Regions from separate parts of the Homo sapiens genome. Here regions 2, 3 and 4 are each linked to region 1. Evidence: fine-mapped expression QTL. A gene starts in region 1. Each other region holds a variant in brackets. All regions are shown on one strand. Distances are from middle to middle.

What was found.
Region 2: its variant is fine-mapped to the expression of IQSEC3 in whole blood (INTERVAL, PIP above 0.99).
Region 3: its variant is fine-mapped to the expression of IQSEC3 in subcutaneous fat (TwinsUK, PIP 0.95).
Region 4: its variant is fine-mapped to the expression of IQSEC3 in testis (GTEx, PIP 0.95).

What each region holds. Positions count from the first base shown.
Region 1 is chr12:63,533-68,734 of GRCh38, reverse strand. IQSEC3 (IQ motif and Sec7 domain ArfGEF 3) reads right to left here and starts at 1,968. Exons shown (of 14, transcript NM_001170738.2): 1 at 1,299-1,968. The coding sequence starts at 1,852.
Region 2 is chr12:139,314-144,466 of GRCh38, reverse strand. It overlaps IQSEC3 (IQ motif and Sec7 domain ArfGEF 3), which reads right to left. Exons shown (of 14, transcript NM_001170738.2): 4 at 5,113-5,153; 5 at 3,182-3,343. It overlaps IQSEC3-AS3 (IQSEC3 antisense RNA 3), which reads left to right. Exons shown (of 10, transcript NR_033859.2): 2 at 1-158; 3 at 1,058-1,228; 4 at 1,834-3,133; 5 at 3,223-3,555; 6 at 3,664-3,819; 7 at 4,097-4,227. Among named protein-coding and RNA genes, the nearest start is that of IQSEC3-AS3, 7.3 kb to the left of the region's middle. The variant A/G (reference allele first, on the strand shown) is at 2,646.
Region 3 is chr12:132,622-137,823 of GRCh38, reverse strand. The region is part of intron 3 of IQSEC3 (IQ motif and Sec7 domain ArfGEF 3); the gene reads right to left. IQSEC3-AS3 (IQSEC3 antisense RNA 3) reads left to right here. Exons shown (of 10, transcript NR_033859.2): 10 at 197-413. Among named protein-coding and RNA genes, the nearest start is that of IQSEC3-AS3, 14 kb to the left of the region's middle. The variant T/C (reference allele first, on the strand shown) is at 2,801.
Region 4 is chr12:160,935-166,136 of GRCh38, reverse strand. IQSEC3 (IQ motif and Sec7 domain ArfGEF 3) reads right to left here. Exons shown (of 14, transcript NM_001170738.2): 8 at 4,072-4,211; 9 at 2,518-2,643; 10 at 604-703; 11 at 247-408. It overlaps IQSEC3-AS1 (IQSEC3 antisense RNA 1), which reads left to right. Exons shown (of 3, transcript NR_183431.1): 2 at 1-825; 3 at 1,380-1,517. Among named protein-coding and RNA genes, the nearest start is that of IQSEC3-AS3, 14 kb to the right of the region's middle. The variant T/C (reference allele first, on the strand shown) is at 3,074.

The sequences.
Region 1 (5,202 bases):
CAAGTATCTCCCAGACTTAATGCACCTGGATGAAGATGAGATTCTCAGCTCTACTTCCCCCTCCCCATTCCCTTATGCATCACCATTGTCAAGGTCAGGTGCTGACCAGGGACAATTTCCCTTGAACTGTTCTTTGTTTAGTTCTCCATCACTTGCCTAATCAGAGAAAAGAAGCAGACATGGCCACAGCCTTTCCAGTACAGAGGAGAGAACATCCCAGACACTTTCATATCTTCTTCCCATATTCCTAGTTCATGGACCTCCTGAGTGAAGAAAGAGCTTGAAGTTCTAGGAACTGAGAGGTTAACATTTCTCTCAGGACCCAAGGCAAGATTTCAGTGATCACCAGATAACCGGGAAAAAAGGGTTTGCAGTTGCTGGCCTTAACAGGGAGATTTAAACAGGCATGGCATCTGAATACCAACTCCATCTGCCAACTGTCCCCCATGTCATTGCTCCCTTTCAACAACGGCCAAACACCCTGTATGAAAAACCCTCCTTGAGTTGGAGGAAAAAGCTGTAACCAGACTGAGTCCTCAAGCCATGCCTGAGTCCTCCATTGGTTTGATGGGATGTTCCCTTGCACCTCTTCGGCTCTGCGGGAATTCAGAGGAAGGGTGTCCAATCAGGTCAGAGAAGAGAAAGCTTCCCTAAATGAGCCACTCCTAGCTGTGGCTCCCACTTCACCAGCTAAAGAGCCACATTTTCTCTTCCTCTGCCTCCAGCTCCCTTGGTTTCCCACATCACTCCTGCTTTTCAGGTTTGTCCCCGGCCTCCTGGATTCCCCTCTACCCCAGTCCTACTCTTCCTGGGCCCCAGCCTTTTTAAAGCTCTTCACATGCCTCTTTCCAAGCCTTCAGCTTTTCTCACATCTCAGTCTCCATGCAAATACTTTTACTACCCAAACTTCCTTCCAAATTTTTTCTCACTTAAAAAGATTCCTTCAATGGTTCTCTTTTCTACAGTTTAATCTTCACTCGAACTTCAACCCAGCCTAACCCCGTTTAAATGCTGTCAGTTCCCAGTATCACCAATCGCTTAACACCCACCTCCTTCCTCCTTTGCTCCTACTAATGGTCTGGTTACTCCTTTTTGCTCCAGCATTCCCCAAAACCTTCTCAAGCAGGGATATCGTTCCCTCATTTACCCAAAATCTCCTTTGCACACTTCTGGCGCCTTCAGGCCACATCACTCCGGTCCTTTAGACTCCTACGCACCCAACGTCCCCGTCTCTCCCTCACACCCACTTGCTTCCCTTGCTCCCACCACAACAGTGCCCATCTCCTCTCCCCGCTCACTCAGGTCTCCTGCTCAGGACGCCCTTGCCGAGGGCGGAGGGGGATTTGTGCTGAAGGAGGGCTCCGGCAGCAGCGCAGCAACTCGGGGGACGCTCCTTCTCCTTGTCAGTCACGGCCCCTTGTGTCCCCAGATGCTTGTGGGGCGACTGGGGTGTGTGAGCCCTGCTGCCAGGGCCCCGCTGGGGCTGCTCCAGGAGCTGTCCGTGGTGCTGACGCGGCGGCCGATCGGGCGCGGGATGCGGCGCGGCTGCTGAGCGCTGTCCCTGGTCCTGGAGAGGTTCCTGGGCCCTGGCGGCGGCGGCAGGAGCGGTGGCCGGAGCGGCCGGCAGCGGGGCCGATGACGGGGGGACGAGCCCGGGCGGAGGCTGGGCTTGCAGCAGCTGCTGGTGCTCCCACAGGCTGCGGTTCTCAGCGCTCAGCTCGTCCAGCCGCCGCTCCAGCTCGTCGATACGCTCTCGCTGGGTGTGGATGAGGCTCTGCTGGTTCTGCACGATGGCCGTGAGCTCCTTGAGGTAGAGCACGGCGCGCACCGGATTCTCCAGCAGGCTCTCCATGCCGCCCGCCGCCGCCTGCGCCCTGCCTGCGCCTGGGCTGGCGGCGGGGAGCGCGAGGGCGCGGGAGCCCAGCAGCCCAGCGGTCGGCTCGCCTCCCTCTCCCACCGGCCCAGCCTCCCTCCCCCCGCCGGCGCCGCGTCACTGCCACCCCGACCTTCACACACGCATCGCGGGGCGGGGCGGCTGCGCAAGGCCCCACCCCCACCCCACCCCCTACCTCCAGACCTCCCCAACTCCTCGCCTCCCCACCTCGCTGCCTCTTGGCGTCAGCGAAGGCTCTGCTGCCTGCAGGGCAGAGAGGAGAGGGAGGAGGCCAGCGAGAGGGAGCCTCTGTCGGGGCGTGGGAGGAAAGCAAGATAACGCAGGCGACCCGAGAAGGACGGTGAATCTGACTGGCCAGACTGGGAAGTAGGCGAAGGGGAAGCAGCGATACTGGGAAGGTGCGGTGGGACCTGTAGGAGAAGAGAAACAGAAAAGAAAGGAAGAGAAGGGGAGAGGCCAGCAGAGAGGAAGCAGAAAAAGGGAAGGTGGGGCCAAGAAAGAGAAATGTGCTGGAGGACAGGAAGGCGTGGGGCCCTGAAGGGACGCGAATTCTTTTTTCCCAGGTCCAGGCCTTCCAGAGGCTGGGGTTCATCTAGAGACCTGCTGAGGAGGGGCCACACTCGCCTCTTTTGCTCGCAGCAATCTATTCTGCCAGGGGATTCCCTGGAACACAAGAATCCTGGGGCTCTAAGGGACCCTAAAGAGCGTCTGGTCCTGCTCCTTCCTTCATCCGTGACGAAACTTGGGATGGGAAGGCTGTTCATGCTGGGTTTCCTCTGGGAGTGAGACCTCAAGACAACTGTGGCAGTTCCTGATAGAAACACTAAATAAACGAGGTCCTCTGTGGCAAGGGCTAACGCTTCCAGAAGCTTCTGAATAGATCATTCTATTTGACAAACAGTTATAAAATGCACACTATTACCAAACACTGTGCTAGATGGTGGTAAGAGAAGCATGACTAGAATGGAATGTTAGGCTTTTTGAAGCTTATAAATAAGTGGGTGAAATTGGTCATGATTAACTTTGACGTATGATAGTGGTGGTGAGTAATCAGGCAGAGGTTTGCCCAGAGTGCTATAGGAGCCAGCAGCTTGGAGATCCAGGGAGGCTTCTTACAGGAAGTGACCCTTGGTGTGGGAAGGGTTTTCCATAAAGGGAAGACAGCATGAGCAAAAGCTCAGAGACATTAATCAGCACCGATTGAATCATTCATTCATGTCTACAATAATCACCACTCACTAGGTGCAAAGTAATGTACAGAATCTATGCAAGCCACATCTAGCATAGATAATAAGTTATCATTTCTATAATCAAGTTGATTCCAATCTCATAGAGTAGATATGCCATGCACATGAATAAGTAAAACACAACTCAAGATTTCTGTAAGAGCTCTTCAAGCCAAGTGCCATAGAGTTCAGGGGAGGGAGAGGATTCATTTGACTGTGTTGATCTGATAAGTTCTGACAGAGGTGTTACTCAAGTTGGGCCACGAAGAATGGGAAATATTTCAACAGGTAGACAGAACAGGGGGCCAGATATGAGAAAGATACATCAGGCAGCAGGGAAAAAACTAATGAATGGAAATAGAGCACTTGGTTTAAATTAATTTGGCAGGGAAATATCCCTTTCCTTTTCTTTTCCTTTACTTTTTTTTTTTTTTAAAGTCTTGTCTGTCACCGAGGCTGGAGTGCAGTGGCAGGATCATAGCTTACTCCATCCTTGACCTCCTGGGATCAAGGAATCCTCTAGCCTCAGCTTCCTGAGTAGGTGGGACTACAGATGCATACCACCATGCCCCGTGAAGGAAATGAGTTGTTCTTTCCTCTTTTATAGGAATGGGATGGGAAGGAGGAAGGGCTATGAGTACGCTTCGCATGTTTGTTATTGTGTTGTTCCGTTCTTCACACACATGTCCATCAGGCTCCCTGTCAACCTTCCATTCCCCCAGGGTAGGCATATTTATGGGTACCATGTGCCCAGTGAGCTGGCCCACCCCCCACCACCACGTGGTGCCAGACTTGAATGACCTTATGAGAAGGAACTTGTGCTCTGCACATATATTGGTTTATCTGCATTCCTGATGTGTTTTTATTTTGCTTTTCTCCCATTTATCTTCCTAGCAAACTTTCTTTGGTAAAGAATGAATAAAGGAAGCTTATCCACAGCTGAGCTCACGGTTAGGGGAAACAGCACACAGGAGGATGCTTTGGTAGTGACCAGCATTCCAGCTAAAGAATGGAGGTTGGGGGATGAAACAAGGGCACACAAAAACTCAAACTCTTTTTTCTGAATTTTCTTTGTTTGCCTAGTTGATTTGCTGTCCAAGAATTGGGTGCTTGGACAGCAAATTAGAGACGAATACGATAAGTGAAACAGCCTGCAGCATAATTATCCATGCGGATTGTTGAAAATGCAGATTTCTGAGCCCTATATTGTAGCAGGACAAGCCGCAGACAAAATTCCTCAGACACCGAGTTAAAGAAGGAAGGGGTTTATTTGGCTGGGGGCATCGGCAAGACTCCTGTCTCAAGAGCTGAGCTCCCCGAGTGAGCAATTTCTGTCCTTTTTAAGGGTTCACAACTCTAAGGGGGTGCGCGTGAGAGGGTCGTGGTCGATTAAGCAAGCAGGGGGTACGTGACTGGGGGCTGCATGCACCGGTAATTAGATCGGAACACAACAGGATAGGGATTTTTCACAGTGCTTTTCTATACAATGTCTGTAATCTATAGATAACATAACCGATTAGGTCAGGGGTCGATCTTTAACTACCAGGCCCAGGGTGTGGCGCCGGGCTGTCTGCTTGTGGATTTCATTTCTGCCTTTTAGTTTTTAGTTTTTCTTTCTTTGGAGGCAGAAAATGGGCATAAGGCAATATGAGGGGTGGTCTCCTCCCATAATACCAGTCCTGCTGTATTGGAATCACTAGGAATGGGGACCAAGAATTTTTATTTTAAAAACTTTTTTCATTAAAAAAATCAACTTTGTTGACTTATAATTTATATCCAATGATATGCTCCCATTTTATGTGCACAGTTCAATGAATTTTGACAAATGTTCATGCCCTATTTTAGTCAGTTCCTCTCATCCTCAGCTCCAGTTAACCACTGACTTGCTGTCTGCCAGTATATGTTAGTTTTGTCTGTTGTGGAATTTCACATAAAAATCATACAGTATACACTACTTCGTGTCTTTCTTTTTAAATTTTTTATTATTTTAAAAATTACTATGATGATTTTTGTTTTAATAGTTTCTGGGGAACATGTGGTGTTTGGTTACATAGATAAGTTCTTTTGTGGTGATTTCTGAGA
Region 2 (5,153 bases), 76 kb before region 1:
GTCTCCAAGGGGATGGGTGATTTATATCCTTTTATTCGGCAAACAGCTTTGTACAGAATGAATACCGCTTGCTGAATGTCACCAGGCGGGGGCAGGGGAGCCGTATAGAATCCCAGTGAAGCCTTCCAGGCCTGGGCAAAATGGCACCTGGCGACTCGGTTAGTGTGTGTGTTTTCTCCGGCGGGAGTAAGGAAGACACAGTCAGAGTGGAAGGGAAATGCAAAGACTCCAGCGCCCCCCTCCCCTGCTAGTGCCTGCCACTTTCTGCTTCTCCATCTTCTCCTGCCCTTTGCAGGACAGGGCCCTCTCCACCTCGGAGAGAAGCAAGGCAGTCAGTGACCTATGGACTTCAGGGAGGGGCTCCTTTCTGTGGCGCTGAGTCAGCATGCCAGGCCTGCAGGGCTACACAATCAAGCATGAGGGATTGCGGCTTTCACCAGGGCATATCAGGGCTTAGCTCTGCACTCAACCTTGCCCAAGCCAGGGTTCCGGCTGGAGGCCCCTTGCTCTTCTCACTCTCTTTCCATGCTCCTGCTTCTCACCTCTCCCCATCCACACCTGGGTCTGTACGTTCCCTGAGACTGTGAGCCATGCCTCTTCACACACACACACACACACACACACACACACACACACACACGGGTGCCCAGCGTGGCCCCATTCTCAACACACAATAAATAAGTGCTCGATGTTTGTTGAATGAATAACAAATGGCCAACTCATTCCCCCATGAACCCTGGCACCCCAGCACTGCCCTGCATGAACCCTGGCACCCCAGCACTGCCCTGCATGAACGCTGGCACCCCAGCACTGCCCTGCATGAACGCTGGCACCCCAGCACTGCCCTGCATGAACTCTGGCACCCCAGCACTGCCCTGCATGAACTCTGGCACCCCAGCACGGCCCTGGGGCCTGTGGGCTGCTCTGGCAGGATGACAAATCATGCCCCAGTGTTTAGGGCAGTGCTACCAATGCACTAAGAGATGGGAAAGGTGGTAGATTCTCAGGACTTGGAGAAACTTTTGCAATCACATCGCCCAGCCCTCTCATTTTACAGATGAGGACACCGAGGCCCAGAGAGGTGTCCTGCCAAAGCCACACAGCACAGAGGAGCAGAGCCCGGGTCCAGCTATTTCTCCTATCTCACCACGCTGCCTCTTCTCACTGGAAGAGTGTACCAACGCGGGAGTCTGGCCCCTACCCATCCCAAGCCTGATCCCTACCTAAGGTTAGCCCAGCCCCCAGCCCCCAGCCCAGCTCCCCTCCTCAGCACAGGCTTGCAGCCACTGCTCCAAGCCTCCAGCCCACAGCCCATACACGCAGCCTCCCAGGGAAGAGGGCAATTAGTTTCCATTGTGCGACTCAGCACCACCTGGGCTGCAGGAAAACGCTGTGTTCCCAGCACTCCAGATCAATGTGGGCCTTGCAGGTTAGAATTTAGGGCGCAGGCCACATGGAGACTGGGAAAGACAGAAGAAAACAGACAACAGTCAGGGCCTGTGGGTGAAGCAGAGTCACTCCTGCCCCCAGAGCAGAGAGACAGCAGGGGTGCCTGGGGCTACGGGGCCAGCACCTCACCCTGGCTTGGGAAGGGATGGACTGGGACAACAGTGCAGGAAAGCCAGAGAGATGAGCCAACTAGGGGACACAGAAAAGGAAGGGCGTGAGGAAATGCCATCTCTCCCCTTCTGCAACCTAGATGTATCCTGGATCCCAGTAGCACCTCCATGGGCCCCCACAGCAGTGCTGGGGAAGGGAAGGGAAGCCGGAGGGAGAAGAGAAAGGAGGTGAGAGGGAGGCGCTGCCTAGCATTGTCTCTCTTTCCTCTTTGAGGTCCACAGAGCGTCTCCACCAGCAGCTCCAGGAGGGATGATAAATTGTCAAAAGCCACCAAGAGTCAGGGACAGGAACTCAGTTCTGCCCAGCTGAGGGCTGTGCAGGGATTTCAAGGTACCTGTGCGAACCCCAGCCCTCACTCATTGAACTCAGTCAGAAAACCACCGCGTCAGTGGATTTAGAAATGTGACAGGGATTTCAGAGGGCAATGGGTCCAGCCCTCACAACCCAGCACCACTCTGCAGGCATGGAAACGCAGGCCCAGAGGACAGGGGCTTCTCAATATGGGCACACAGCACCAAGACAGCTCCATAAATAGAAGTGAAATATCCAAGCTCCCACTCCAGGGAAGCTGACCACTGGGTGGATGACTCCCCCAGCGTCCAAACCCTCTCTGGCAGTCCCTTGCTGCTCCAGGAGCGAGGATGAAAGGGAGAGCTCTTCCCAGGGCCTCCGGGGAGACACTTCTGCTGACTGTCCCCAAGGAGAAAGAGGGGAGAGAAATGAGGGAGGGTCCCTGAAGAATGGAGACCTTCAAGAAGGAGGCCAACCTCGGGGACCAGTGGAAGCCAGAAAGAGCACGGGGGCATGGCAGGGGCTGAAGCCGATGTCCCAGGGAAGGAGTAGCTGCAAGGCCCCTCAGCCTCAGAGGAGCGCCAGCCCCGCCCTGCCATTCTGGACAAGGCATGAGTGTGAAGAGACTCTTGCCTGTCCACACTATCAAGGCTGAGCGGGGGCAAAGGCAGCCCCCTGGGGGTCCCCACCCTGCTACTGGACTTTAAAACCATTTTCTTTGGTTTTAAAGAAAC[A/G]ATTTTTCTTTGGTCATGATTTTGTTGGTAGATTTATCTTTATGGAATTGTAGTATTTTCTTGCTCTAAAACCCTCAGTTTAACCCCTTCTTTTTTCTGTCTCACATTTTTGCCTCCAGCGATATGAAAATGAACCTTGGAGAATGGGAGGGTCCTGGGGGAGGGGGGCTGAGGGGCTCTTCACCAGGCAGAGATGAACCCCAGTGCTGACACAAGCCCTTTCCTTTTCCTGGTTTCTCTTGCCCTGGAGAGTGACAGGCAGAAAGGGCTTTTTGTCTCTTTGGACCATTTCTGTATCCCTGCTGCCTCAAACGAAGCCTGGCCTGGGGCGAACTCAATCAATGACTCTGACGGGAGACAGGGCTCCGGCCCACTGGGGTGATGGGCTAAAGAGGGGATTCTGGTTCCTGTGGACAATCTGGAAGCTGGAAGCTGTTAGAACTGGAGCGAGGATTTCACCAAGGAGCTCACAGAGAGAGCCCGGGCAGGTGGGGTGTGGGAAGGAGTGGGGAAAGCCCGGAGTGTGGGGTACTCACTCCAGCACGTCGCGGTTGAACTGCTTCTTGCTGTTGCCCAGGAACTCTCCAATCATCTGGCGGCTGAGGCCCTTTCGCTGGAGGAGGAAATGGGCCACACCGATGGGGGTGTCCGGGATGAAGCCGCGTGAGATCAGGAACTGGATGCCCTTGTCGGGGTTTCTGGAGGTGGGGGTGGGGAGAAGCAGTAGAGAGTGAGCTGAAGCCATCCATGACTCTTTCCTCCCTGTCTTCCACCCATAGAAGTACCCAGAGGTTCTTGGAAATCCAGTTCCCCATTGAAGCTTCTCTCACCAGAGCCTCAACCCACTGAATGTCCTCACGCAGAGGATGGTGTGTGACCAGAAGGAGGACAGGGGAGATCTGCAAACAAAGTGAATTCCAGAGCAGATGGAGGAGAAGTACCCTTCTCTGTCCCTGCCTCCTGGGTCTTACCCCAGTCCTGCCCTTCCCCCTACCCATATCCTGTTGTCAATATGCAGGTCCCCACCGCAGACGCCCCAACCCTGGAGAGAGGGTGGGAGAAACAGAGGTGAGACCTCCGCCACACCACCTCTTCCCTTTGCAAGCTTTGAAGCCATGCTGCTCCCTGAGCTGTTCCTCACAGGTCCGGGAGGAGATAAGTACAGAAACACAAGGTAAGCACTGAGAACCTCCCATAGCATTTCGACATTTTCCGGGACAGCCAGGCATGTGATTGTCTTTCTAGCACCTCATTTTTATTGTATTTTACAAAAGTATTAGCCCACAATGTATTTTCAGAAGGGTGTGGGGGAACAAAACTGGTTCTTCACTATGGATAGTTTAAGAATTCCTGTCTTGGGGCAGATGAGTGTCTGTATGAGTTTTCATGTGCATGCAGAAGAGACACTGCAGAAGTGGGAGTGGTTCAGAGTCAGATCCGCCTTTCCCTAGGTCTGCCGAGTACTAGCTATTTCATCGTGTGCATTTCGCCTTACTGGTGTGAGCCGGCTTCTTTTCTGTAAAACAGCATGGTAATACCTCTGTGTAGATACTGCTGGAAGATTACAGATGCTTTATGTAAGGTGAGCTATGAACAGTAGCTACTTCCCCTAGAATAGGAGCCTCTTGAGGCCAGGGGATGTGTCCTTCTCACCTCTGTGGTCACAGTGCCTGGCACCCAATAAATAACAGCCGAATGAACGAATGAACACGCATTAGGGCCGGGGAGATGTGCTCTTGGCGCAGGGTTATGAAGGGGCGAGTGGAGGATGGAGGCGAGTGCCTGCCTCCTGGACCTGACATTTCCATGGGAGGGGCAGGTGTGCTTCCTTTCCTCTGCTTGGGACTGGCTGTATACATTCGGTGCAGGACCAGTCCCGGTCTCGCTGGGGTCTCTGAGCTATGGCGGTCGGTCATTTCTCCCCTGTTCTCTTTCTCCTGTGCCTCTGCCTGCTTCACACTCTCTCTTCCTCGTAGCCCTCCCCTCTCCTGCTCTCAGCCGGCATTCTTTACGAGGCGCCTCTCCTCCCTCCCCCACCCAGCCTCGCATTTCACCAACCCTGGGAGCTAATGCGTTTTCCCTGGCTTCATATCCACCCGAATGATTGCTGCGTAATCCTCAAACGGCCTGGACTGTTATTTACTTAATACTGTCTTTTCTTTTACATTCTCTTACTTTTCAAACCCTAGCTTCATCTTAAGCTGTAACAGTTGTGAAAGCATGTGTCTGATGTGTTATTTTTTTCCTTTAATCTTTCTTAAAATAAACTCAGGATGATTAAAATAAAATATGTACTTCCTAAACATGACCTCAGGGATCAGGCACGGCACAGATGCGCCTGCCTGGAGGACCCTGGCATGACGTGGGAAGTTACCTGGCGCCCTGCTTGGTGGAGGGAAGGTGCCCTCCTCCTTCCCTCCCTCCCAGGACGCCCAGGACTCCGGGCTGGGGGCCGGGGCTGACTTACATGTTGAAGAGGTTGAGGCCGATGCGGTAGAGCCGCTTGCG
Region 3 (5,202 bases), 69 kb before region 1:
AACTGGGTGTCCTGGTGCGCGCACGCCTGTGGTCCTCAGCTACTGGGAAGGCTGAGGTGGGAGGACTGCTTGAGCCCAAGGAGTTGGAGATTACAGTGAGCTATGATTGTACCACAGCACTCCAGCCTGGGCAAAACAGTGAGACCTTGTCTCTGTTTTTTTCTTTTCTTTTCTTCTTTTTTTTTTTTTTTTTAAGTTCATGTCAGAGATGCATACAGAAGTACTTATGGGTAAAATGCATGATATCTTGAAGTTGTGTTAAAATATTCTGTCAAAAAATGTGGAAGAGTTAGATGACACAATATTAATGTTAATAAATATTAATAAAATGGTTACAGCTGGATGATAGCTACGGGGGAGTTTATAACACTGTCGTTTCTACTTTTGTGCACACTTTAAAACAATAAACAATGAAAAACAGAAATGCTAAAAAACCTCACAGCTCCTCGTGCTTCCCCGCTCCTCCCCTAAACAATGAAAAACATAAATGCTAAAAACCCTCACAGCTCCTCGTGCTTCCCTGCTCCTCCCCAGCAACCATGTCTCTGTGTTGGGGTGGCTCCTTTCCCTGGGAACATCAGAAGGGTCGGGATTGGGGTTGGACCATCTGTGTGTTCCCAGTACATAGTTAGCTGCTCAGTAAACGTGGATTTGCTAAAAAGTTGAGTGGGTGTCTCAAGAATGGGGGTCCCTCCAGGCCACCATTACCAAGAGTTCCCCAATTTGAGTCACCTCTGCTCTTACGGTGGGAGCTGTCCAACCAGGGCAGGGCTGGGTGGGGTGGGCTCGGGGGCATGGCACCTCACCTGGGCAGATCTGATCCCAGGAAAACTTCTGTCAGGGGGCCAGCGTGCCTCCTCTCGGCTCTGTCCTCCTGTCCGTGGGTTTTCTCCTCTCAGGTTGCTACGCTCTCACTTTTCCTCCCTATGGAAACTTCTCAGGAAAGGACTGGGGAGGTATGACAGCCATGCCCCCAGAGGCTTCTGCCTTTAAATAAGGGACAAGGCCTGTGTGAAGGTGATGGGCTTAAATGGTGGCATCCTAGACTCTGATCAGCCCTCAGAGAAGTTTGGGAAGTGCGAGTGTTTCCTATTCACAACCAGACATGCCACTTACACGTGGTGTCCTTCCCGAATGAACGAAGAATCGGGATGGGTGCGCTGAGATGAACGACTCAAGGCAAGAACAGGGACGTCCCGTGTTCTCCAGGGATCATGGGTGGGGAGGGTACAGATTGTTCTCCAGGGATCATGGATGGCGAGGGTACAGATAGAAAGGCCATACTTCATCCCTCAGCACAACACTTCAACCTGCTTCCTGCTCCACTGGAGCCCCCAAAGGCTGCAGCCAGAATGAATGCCTGCCTCCCACAGCCCAGCCGTGCCCTCTGCTCCCTCCCTGCAGGGTGTGATGGGTGCCCCATTCCACGCTAGCAGAGGTAGCCTCTTAGCTCAGGACACCTTGTGGATTCAACCCCAATCCCCAAGGACAATCCCAGATAAAATGAGACATCCTTAGTGCTTGCCTCCAGTGCTTCCAGCCTGGCCATTCCCATTCCCCATTCCCAAACCTGGGGACATCATTCTGTCTCCCCCAACATCCAACTCTACCCTTGGAGATCGTTGGAACTCACGCAGATTAATGTGTAAATGGCAACTAAGCCTTCCTATATGGCTTCTCCCAAAGTTACTTGCATTTCATGAGGGACAAGGCCCTGAGCAGGAGGAAGCTCCCAGTGCTATCACAATCCCCCTATTGGAGGGGTCTTCAAGGTGCTCTAAACCACACCAAGTGTATTCCTCATCTATTGCTGTGTAACACATGACCACAAATCCAGCCACTTAAAGTAGCACCTGTTTATTTCTCATGCAGCTCTGTGAATCTAGTCTGGGCACAGCTCATCTGGGTTATCTGCTCGGGATCTCACCAGGCTGAAACCAAGATATCAGTCAGGGCTGCAATATCATCTAAGGTGTGGGGTCCTCCTTTGAGCTCGCTCTTGTTGGCACAATTCAATTCCTTGTAATCACAGGACTTAGGCCCTCAGTCACTAGAGGTTGCCTGCTGTCCCCTACCATGTGGCCTGCTTCATAACCTGATAGCTTGGTCCTTCAAGGCTAACGGCACAGTGTCTGTCTGGGGCTTCAGCTTCATTTATAGGGCTGACCTGATTAGCTCAGACCCACCCTGGGTGATGTTTCTTTTTATTAACTCAAAATCAACCAATTGGTAACCTAATCATTGGAGTGATGTCCCATCACATTCACTCATCCTGCCCATACTCAAGGGAAGGGGATTATATAGGATGTGTACACTAGCATGAAGGGGACTTGGGGGCCATCTGAGAATTTTGCCCACGGTACGAACTGGACACTTCCCCACTTGATCTTTACTAGGTATGACCTCATGCACCCATAAGAGACACAGATACTTGCCTCTGAGGCATTCTGTTCCTGCTCCTGTGGAAATAATGTAGCTTGGCTCATTCTCCCTGCTGAACTTTGACACATTCCCTGAGGCCTGGAATAGGGACTTGGCTTTGGCTCAGGCAGGAAAGTCCTTCCCCAAGGGGAAATGTAGAGAGGAAGGGGAACTGATCACTAAAATGTCTCCTTTTCTCTCAATTTCTGTCTGTCAGCCCTATTCAAGCACCATGAGAAACTGACAGATTTCACATTTCTTTTTTTTTTCTTTGAGATGGAGTCCCGCTCTGTCACCCAGGCTGGAGTGCAGTGGCACGATCTCGGCTCACCATAACCTCCGCCTCCTGGGTTCAAGCGATTCTCCTGCCTCAGCCTCC[T/C]GAGTAGCTGGGATTACAGGTGTGCGCCACTGTGCCTGGCTAATTTTTGTATTTTTTTAAGTAGAGACAGGGTTTTGCCATGTTTGCCAGGCTGGACTTGAACTCCTGGTGCCTTGGTGATCCGCCCACCTTGGCCTCCCAGAGTGCTGGGATTACAGGCGTGAGCCACCGTGCCCGGCCAGATTTCACATTTCTTTCCCGTCTGGCCTATTTATACCCCACCTTGGCCTCCCAAAGTGCTGGGATTACAGGCATGTGCCACTGTGCCTGGCTAACTTTTGTATTTTTTTTAGTAGAGACAGAGTTTTGCTATGTTGGCCAGGCTGGACCTGAACTCCTGGCACCTCGGTGATCCGCCCACCTTGGCCTCCCAAAGTGCTGGGATTACAGGCGTGGGCCACTGCGCCCGGCCAGATTTCACATTTCTTTCCCGTCTGGCCTATTTATACTTCTAGGAAAACCCCAGGCCCAAGAGCATCCTTTTGCAGCACGAGATGCTGTTGGCAACACAGGGAAGGTATGAAATCCATTGCTTGAGATGCTTCCAAAATGGTGATGGGGTCCATGCCCTTGGCATGGTATCATCCTGCTTGAAGGCAGAAGACCAGCTGACATAACCCTAGGAGACTCCGTGTACTACTGGGCAATGTCTATGCTTCACCCAAGCAGGAAAGAAAACCAGATTTTAAATTCTTGCATCTGTCCCATCACATCCTCTACTAGACATCAAGTCCCACGAGGGCAGATTTCACCTGCCGTGGCCACTGCTATCTCCTCCAATGCTTGGACAGTGCCCAGCACATAGTGGGCCTTCAATGAGTGTGTATTCGACAAATTAATTCCAAAGTTATATTTGTGACTCTCAAAAACCTTCCTAATCTGACTCAGCAGACGCTCTCCCGCTCCTGCCTCCTTTGTGTGTTCAGCTCACCCTACACATGCTCTTTTTACTCCCATTTCCTTCGTCCTATCTGCAGCTTTGCACCTGGCCACAGATCTCCCCAGGCTACAGCGTAACTGCTGACTCCGCTGCCGCTGGGGCACTAGCCTGTTCCCTTTCTTCCTATTTTACACTGAACCTCCAGAACAATAACCTCTGCCTCACTCCAGGAGCAAATGCCAGATACTGACCCAACCCTGCCCTAGCCTGTTCCCTTTCTTCCTATTTCACACTGAACCTCCAGAACACTAACCTCTGCCTCACTCCAGGAGCAAATGCCAGATGCTGACCCAACCCTGCCCTAGCCTGTTCCCTTTCTTCCTATTTTACACTGAACCTCCAGAACACTAACCTCTGCCTCACTCCAGGAGCAAATGCCAGATACTGACCCAACCCTGCCCTAGCCTGTTCCCTTTCTTCCTATTTTACACTGAACCTCCAGAACACTAACCTGTGCCTCACTCCAGGAGCAAAGGCCAGATGCTGACCCAACCCTGCCCTGAGCCCTGTGCTCTGGGTCCTGCTGCCTCCCATCTCAGTCAAGGGCGAGAGATGTTAAACTCATCCAAGGCCAACCAGCAAGGAAGAGGCAGATCTGGGGCTTGTCACTCAGCCCCAGGGGCCTCCTCAGCCTCCCTCCTGGCTCCTTTCTGCAACTCTCCCCAGTGCTCATGACTCAGTCTATCCTGGTTGTCCTGTCTCCCTACAACCCCTTAATCCTGTATTCTGGCCACAAAACCCCTACGTGTGCTGATTACGAGTCACATGGGTGCCACTGCCAGTCTCCACACGTTTTAATTTTCCCCGTACACTCTGGACATCATCCACGGCTTCTGTGTTGGACATCATCAGAGGAGCCCGTGATGGGTGATAATTAACAATGAATTAAGAAGGGAGCTGTGTCAGTCAGAGCCTTCCAGGTCACTGTAAACGTGCTCCCCAGGTGGATACCTTCTCAGCCCTGTCTGCCTTCCCTCTGAGGACCCAGTCCACTCTCTTAACTTCTACTTTGATGGGCCAGTGAGCAAGTGGCAAGTAAGGGGAATGGCCAGCCCCAGATCCCAGCTGATTGGACTTGGATGAATTTAACATCTTTGACTCTCAGTTTTCATATCTATTAAGTGGGGTTTATCCTGCTGACCCTGTATCTTCTTGTGAGGATTAAATTATTTCATGGAGCACCCAGCAGAGAGCAGGAGCTTCATAAGTGGTAGCTGCTTAATGGTGACAGTGACAATGATGGGAATGACTCTCAAGCCTCCATACCTAGCCTTGATCCTAGACCCACATTTCCAGCAGCCTGTGTATCCTCTGTCCATCTAGGCTATGCCACTGTTTTCCCTACCTCACCCAAACCAGCTCTTGTTGACTTCCTTATTGGCCTGACAAGCACCCAGCCTGGGAAACTTGCCTTGTCCTGGGGTTTTCGTTTGCCCTGTCCACTGTGTTTGTCAGCCTCCTG
Region 4 (5,202 bases), 97 kb before region 1:
CCCCACATGCCTGCTGATCTGTGTACACACGTGTGTGCACTCTAGCAAGCCTCACTTTAATTGTGAAGAAACATGGGAACCGGTGCTCCCACCCGGGCTGTGGGAGTGTGGTGCGGTGGGGCCTGGACACGGGGAGGGTCCGAAGTGGGGCCAGCTCCCTGGAGTCAGGCATGTCTGTCTCAAGCTGCCCCTGTCCCTTGCTGAATGGGAACCCCCACCAGCTGCCTCGGGAGCCCGTGTCCTTACACTCTATTCGGATCTGCTCCAGCTCCGTCACCTCAGCAATGGACTCCTTCAGGTCCTCCACGAACTTCTGCATCTCGTCCGAGCCCAGGGCACAGAAATGCAGCACCTGCTTCTTCTCGGAGCCCGAGAGCGGGGTCACCAGTGTGATGCCATGAGAGTAATCTGGAAAGCAGACCCCAGGCCCCCAGTGGGCTGTGAGCAGCAGCAGCCGAGGGCCAGAGCCAGCCAGACATGAGGAGGGCACGGGGTCTCATGCCTCCACCCACTCTGCTGTCCAGCCCTTCTCCCTCAACTCGCCCCAGCCATTTCATCCATTCATTCCTTCTCAAAGACTTACACTGGCTGTCAAAGACTTACACTCGTTCTCAAAGAGCTGGAACTGCATGCCCAGCAGGCCAACTGACTTGCAAAAGGTGTACGTGGAGGAGCTCTTCTTCTTCGGGCAAAGTTTGAGAATCTGTTCAGGAGAGGGAAACAGGCATGCCCTGATGAACAGACACTCACGGACACATGGATGCACAAACACCCGGGGGATGCACGATCACACAAACCCACGCAGTGATGAATGTGCACATACAGGTACAGATATACATATATGTGCACACACTATCCCAAAATGTGCTTCTTCACTGCACAAAACCCTACAGTGGTTATTCCCTCTGTACTTAGAAGCCAAGCCACGGCGCCTGAGCTGGCCTGTAAAACCCACCTGATGTGGTCCTTGCCTTACTCTGGCCTTCTGCCCAAGTGTCCTCCCTGCTGTAGCTTGAGAAGGGCAAGCTCAGTTCCACTGTGGGCCCCTCGCATACACTGTTCCCACTCCACAGCTCTCCCGGCAGCTTTTTGCACGGCTGCATTACTCTCATTACTTAAGTCTCAAATGCTACCTCCTTAGAGATGCCTTCCTGGATCACCTCCTCTAAAAAACAAACCAAAGCAAGCCCAAACCTGGCCCTTAACTCCAGTCACTCTCTGTACTATCACCTGGTTTGTGGCCTTCATAGTGCCTTCCCCCAATCTGATATTATCTTGTTTGTCTGTTTCTTAATTATTTTCTATCTCCCTCCCCTACTAAAATGAAAGCTCGTTTTAGTAAAGTCATCTGGTTGCTTAATAAACAAATTTCTATTCAGCAGCTTCTGTGAGCTGAGCCCTGGAGATACAGGAGAACTCAGGACAGAGCCCCTGCCCTTAAGGTGCTTATGGAATGTGGAGTGTCACAGTGTCCATCAGGTGATCAAACAATAAAGCATAACAGCAAAAAAACAAAACCAAAGTGCTACGTGTTTTGAAGAAAATGAAACAGGGTAAGGAATCAAAAGTGATTTGAGACTTGAATGAAAAGGAGGAGGCCAGGAAGGCAAGAGGAGAGTGCAAGGTCTGGAGGAGCTTTGCAAGAAGGAGCAGCAAGTACAAAGGCCTGGCCCACAGGAGGGAGGCGCCTCCCAGGGCTGAGGAGAGGGCGGGGAGGCAGGTTAGGGAAAGGGGACACGTGGCCTGATGTGCACTCCAGAGAGATCACGCTGCTGCTCTCAGGGGGGTGGGGAGAGCCGTGTGGAGGCTGATGTGGTTCACTGAATGTACCAGGCGTGCACTAAGACTGTAGTAGTGGAGGTGGTGAGAGGTGGTTCAGGCTTGTGATCACTTTGGAGGCAGTGCCAACGTGGCTCATGGATAGAGAGGGCCGGTGCGAGGGAGACACAAGCCCTGCTCCAGTCCTGCTCACCAGTTTTCCAGACCTACAATGATGCCTGGCACATGGTCAACGCTGATCAAATATTTGTTGAATGGATACTTCTTTTCAAAGAGCAAAAAAAGTATCTGTGGGTACAGATGTGTGTATGTGTGTGCACGCACACACACACACCAGCCTCGCCTAGGCCCAGGGACAGAGCATGCTCCGCCTAGGCCCTGCTCCTCCCAGGCCCTGGGGTCTGAGGCACAGCCCTGTGCACTCCCTGTCCTGGGCTTCCTGTAACGTGGAGAGGCCAGTGGTCTGGGAACTAGTTCGTTAACAGTTTGTGCAACCACGAGCAGATCATCTGACGTCTCGGTGTCATGACTTATGAGGTAGGAATTAGCATGTCTGCCTGAGCCCCCTCACGCCCACGGTGTGAAAGCACCATGAAGGCAGATCCGTCCCACGGAACAGGCATTCTGTCTGAAAGCTCTGGGCGTCCTTTCCTGCCCACTTCAGGGACCCTGCCCAGGCTGACCAGGGCGGCAGAGGCAGCCCCAGCCCAGCCCAGTCCCGGAGCGGAGGCCACTCACCACCAGCAGGTCATTGAAGAGGAACACCTCCCTCTGATGCGCTGCCTGCTTCTGCAGCTTGTTCACATCCGTCACCTCGAAGAGCCGGCTGCAGCACACCAGGCGGCGGTGGGGCACGGACAGCACCTGCACGCGGGCAGGGCGCTCAGCGGGAGAGACCAGAGGCCTGGAGGCCTCCCCACCCACGCGCCCATTTTCCAGAAGAGGAGACAGCCCGGGAGAGGGGAGGGGCCCGGTTCTGTGGAGGGAGGAGAGGGGAGGGGTCCGGTTCTGTGGAGGGAGGAGAGGGGAGGGGTCCGGTTCTGTGGAGGGAGGGGAGGGGAGGGGTCCGGTTCTGTGGAGGGAGGGGAGGGGAGGGGTCCGGTTCTGTGGAGGGAGGGGAGGGGAGGGGTCCGGTTCTGTGGAGGGGGAGGGGAGGGCTCCGGTTCTGTGGAGGGAGGAGAGGGGAGGGGTTCGGTTTTGTGGAGAGGGAGGGGAGGGGCTCCGGTTCTGTCCTGGGGCCTGGACTTGACTCTCATCCTTCTCTCTCCTCGTCTGAGGCTCTTTCCCTCGCACG[T/C]TCACCCCCTGTCCCAGGGCTCATCCCTGTCATGCTTCTTGGGGAGCACGGCCAGAGAAGGGGCCCACTGAGCCACAGTAAATGAGGGGATAGAGGGACAGGAATAGGAAATTGAGAAGAGCTTGCAGGCTGTTCCAGTCCAGCCACTGTCAACCTGCTTCCCTCCGTAACCTTGAGGGCATCCCCTGCCCCAGGCTGCGGCCTGCAGATATGACACCTCCACCCTTTCTATACTGCAGAGATGCAGGTGTGCGAGAGCGAAGGGATCACAGAGACACCTGGCATCTACTCCAGCGTGTAAGACAAACCAGTCGCTTGCAACCCGACAGATGCTGAGACCTCAGCAATAAAGGCTCTCAAAGCAGAAAAGCCTGTCCCTGCACAGACTGGGAGGAGGGAGCCCAGTGCAGGGCCTCAGAAGAGATCTCCAAACTCTCCCACACCGTCCCCTGAGGCAAGAATATGAGGAGGAGGAACTGGAACCCCCATGACATCCTTTATAGTATAAAGTGTAGTAGCCTACAGAGAAGTCCCACTTTAAAAATCATGGCAGGCTTGGAACATGCTGCCTGGGACACAGGTCACTACCAATAGGACAAATCTATGGTGATGCCACAGCCTGGAGCCTATTGAGCCCATTTCCTGCCTTCCACTCATCAGGACCATCCAGGAATGCCTGGTAGTCATGCTGTCCTAGGAAAGGGATACTAAATCTCATCTGGCCACCCAGATGCTTCCACCCTAGACCACTGGGCAGTCCTTCCTGACATCTCATCTCCGTCTCTCCTGCTGCAGTATCGGGTGGCAAGAGGCAATGAGGAAATCAGGCAAGAAAAAAAAAAAGAGATGCAGTGTCTGGCACACAGTAGGTACTTCATAACTATCATGTGAATGAATATGAAAAAAGAGTTTTGGAAAGGTAAGAAGGAGAATGGGAAGAGATGCCAGGAAGAAAGAAAGGAAAGGAGACGGGAGATAGGTAGCTTGTGGACACTCACTGTCTTCATGCCCACAATGGACTTCTCCACCTTGGTGACGTACGTGACGTGGTCCTCATTGGACTTGAGCTCCTTCTGCTGTATCCTCTCATAGATGCCTACCACCAGCTCCCTGGGGATGTCAGCGCCATCGTCCACACCTAACAACGTGGAGTGGGCAGGGGTGGTGGTGGGGTTGGGAGGGAGGGTGTCAGAGCCCTGGAGCCAGACAGAAGAGACCCCCATCCAGCCTGGAGCTCCCGGGGGGTGGCCTTGGTTCTTGCCATGCCTTCAATGGCTGGTGCCTCATACCCATTCAATTAAGAACAAGTTCCTTAGCCAGGCACCAAAACTAATGATATGGCCCCAACACACATCTCCTGCCTCACCTCCTGATGTTCCCCAACCAGAGTCTTCACGCCCACCTCCCAGGCCTCTTTCCTGATGGCAGATACAGCCTCCATGTTCCTGCTAACCCTGTGCGCCTCTGCAGTTCTGTCGTCTTCCTTGTGTTCGTCTCACCCCCCAGCTCCACCCCACCACTCCAGCATCATAAGGAGCTTCTGTTTCGTTCTCTTTTGGATCTTCCTCCTGCTGGGCTCTCCTCTCCCCTCCAGTAGGGAGCATGGCATTGAGGGCTTAGTCTTTGAAGAGATTCCTCCCTCACTGGGAGCAGTGGGGGAGCAGGCAGACCCCTGGCAATGCAGGCGAGGACACCCCTGTCCCACCTCCTGCTTCATAGTAATGATAAAACTCGGGCAACAAAAAAACACTGGCAGGAAATATGCCAACAAGAAAACACGTTTCTTTTGGAGAAACAGGCGATTAAAATATCTTCTTTCTACTATTTCCAAATCTTTCTTTAATGACTATACGCTTCTTTTATAAGAGGGAAAAATTAAAAATAAAACAACTTTGGCAAGCATCTCTCAAAGGAGTGTTCCCAGCTACTGAAAGGACACCCCGCCTTCCACACGCAGCTCCCGGCCTGCTCTGGTCTCTTCCACGTCTGATCTTGGTTCTCGAAGTCAGGCAAATGAGCCATGCAGCAGCCAAGGAGGCTGAAAGAAATCAGGCGGCGGGTGAGAAAAACCAAGGAGAAAGGCTGAGTGTATGGATGCCCCCAGTTCAAGGTGGCAGGCTGCATGCCTC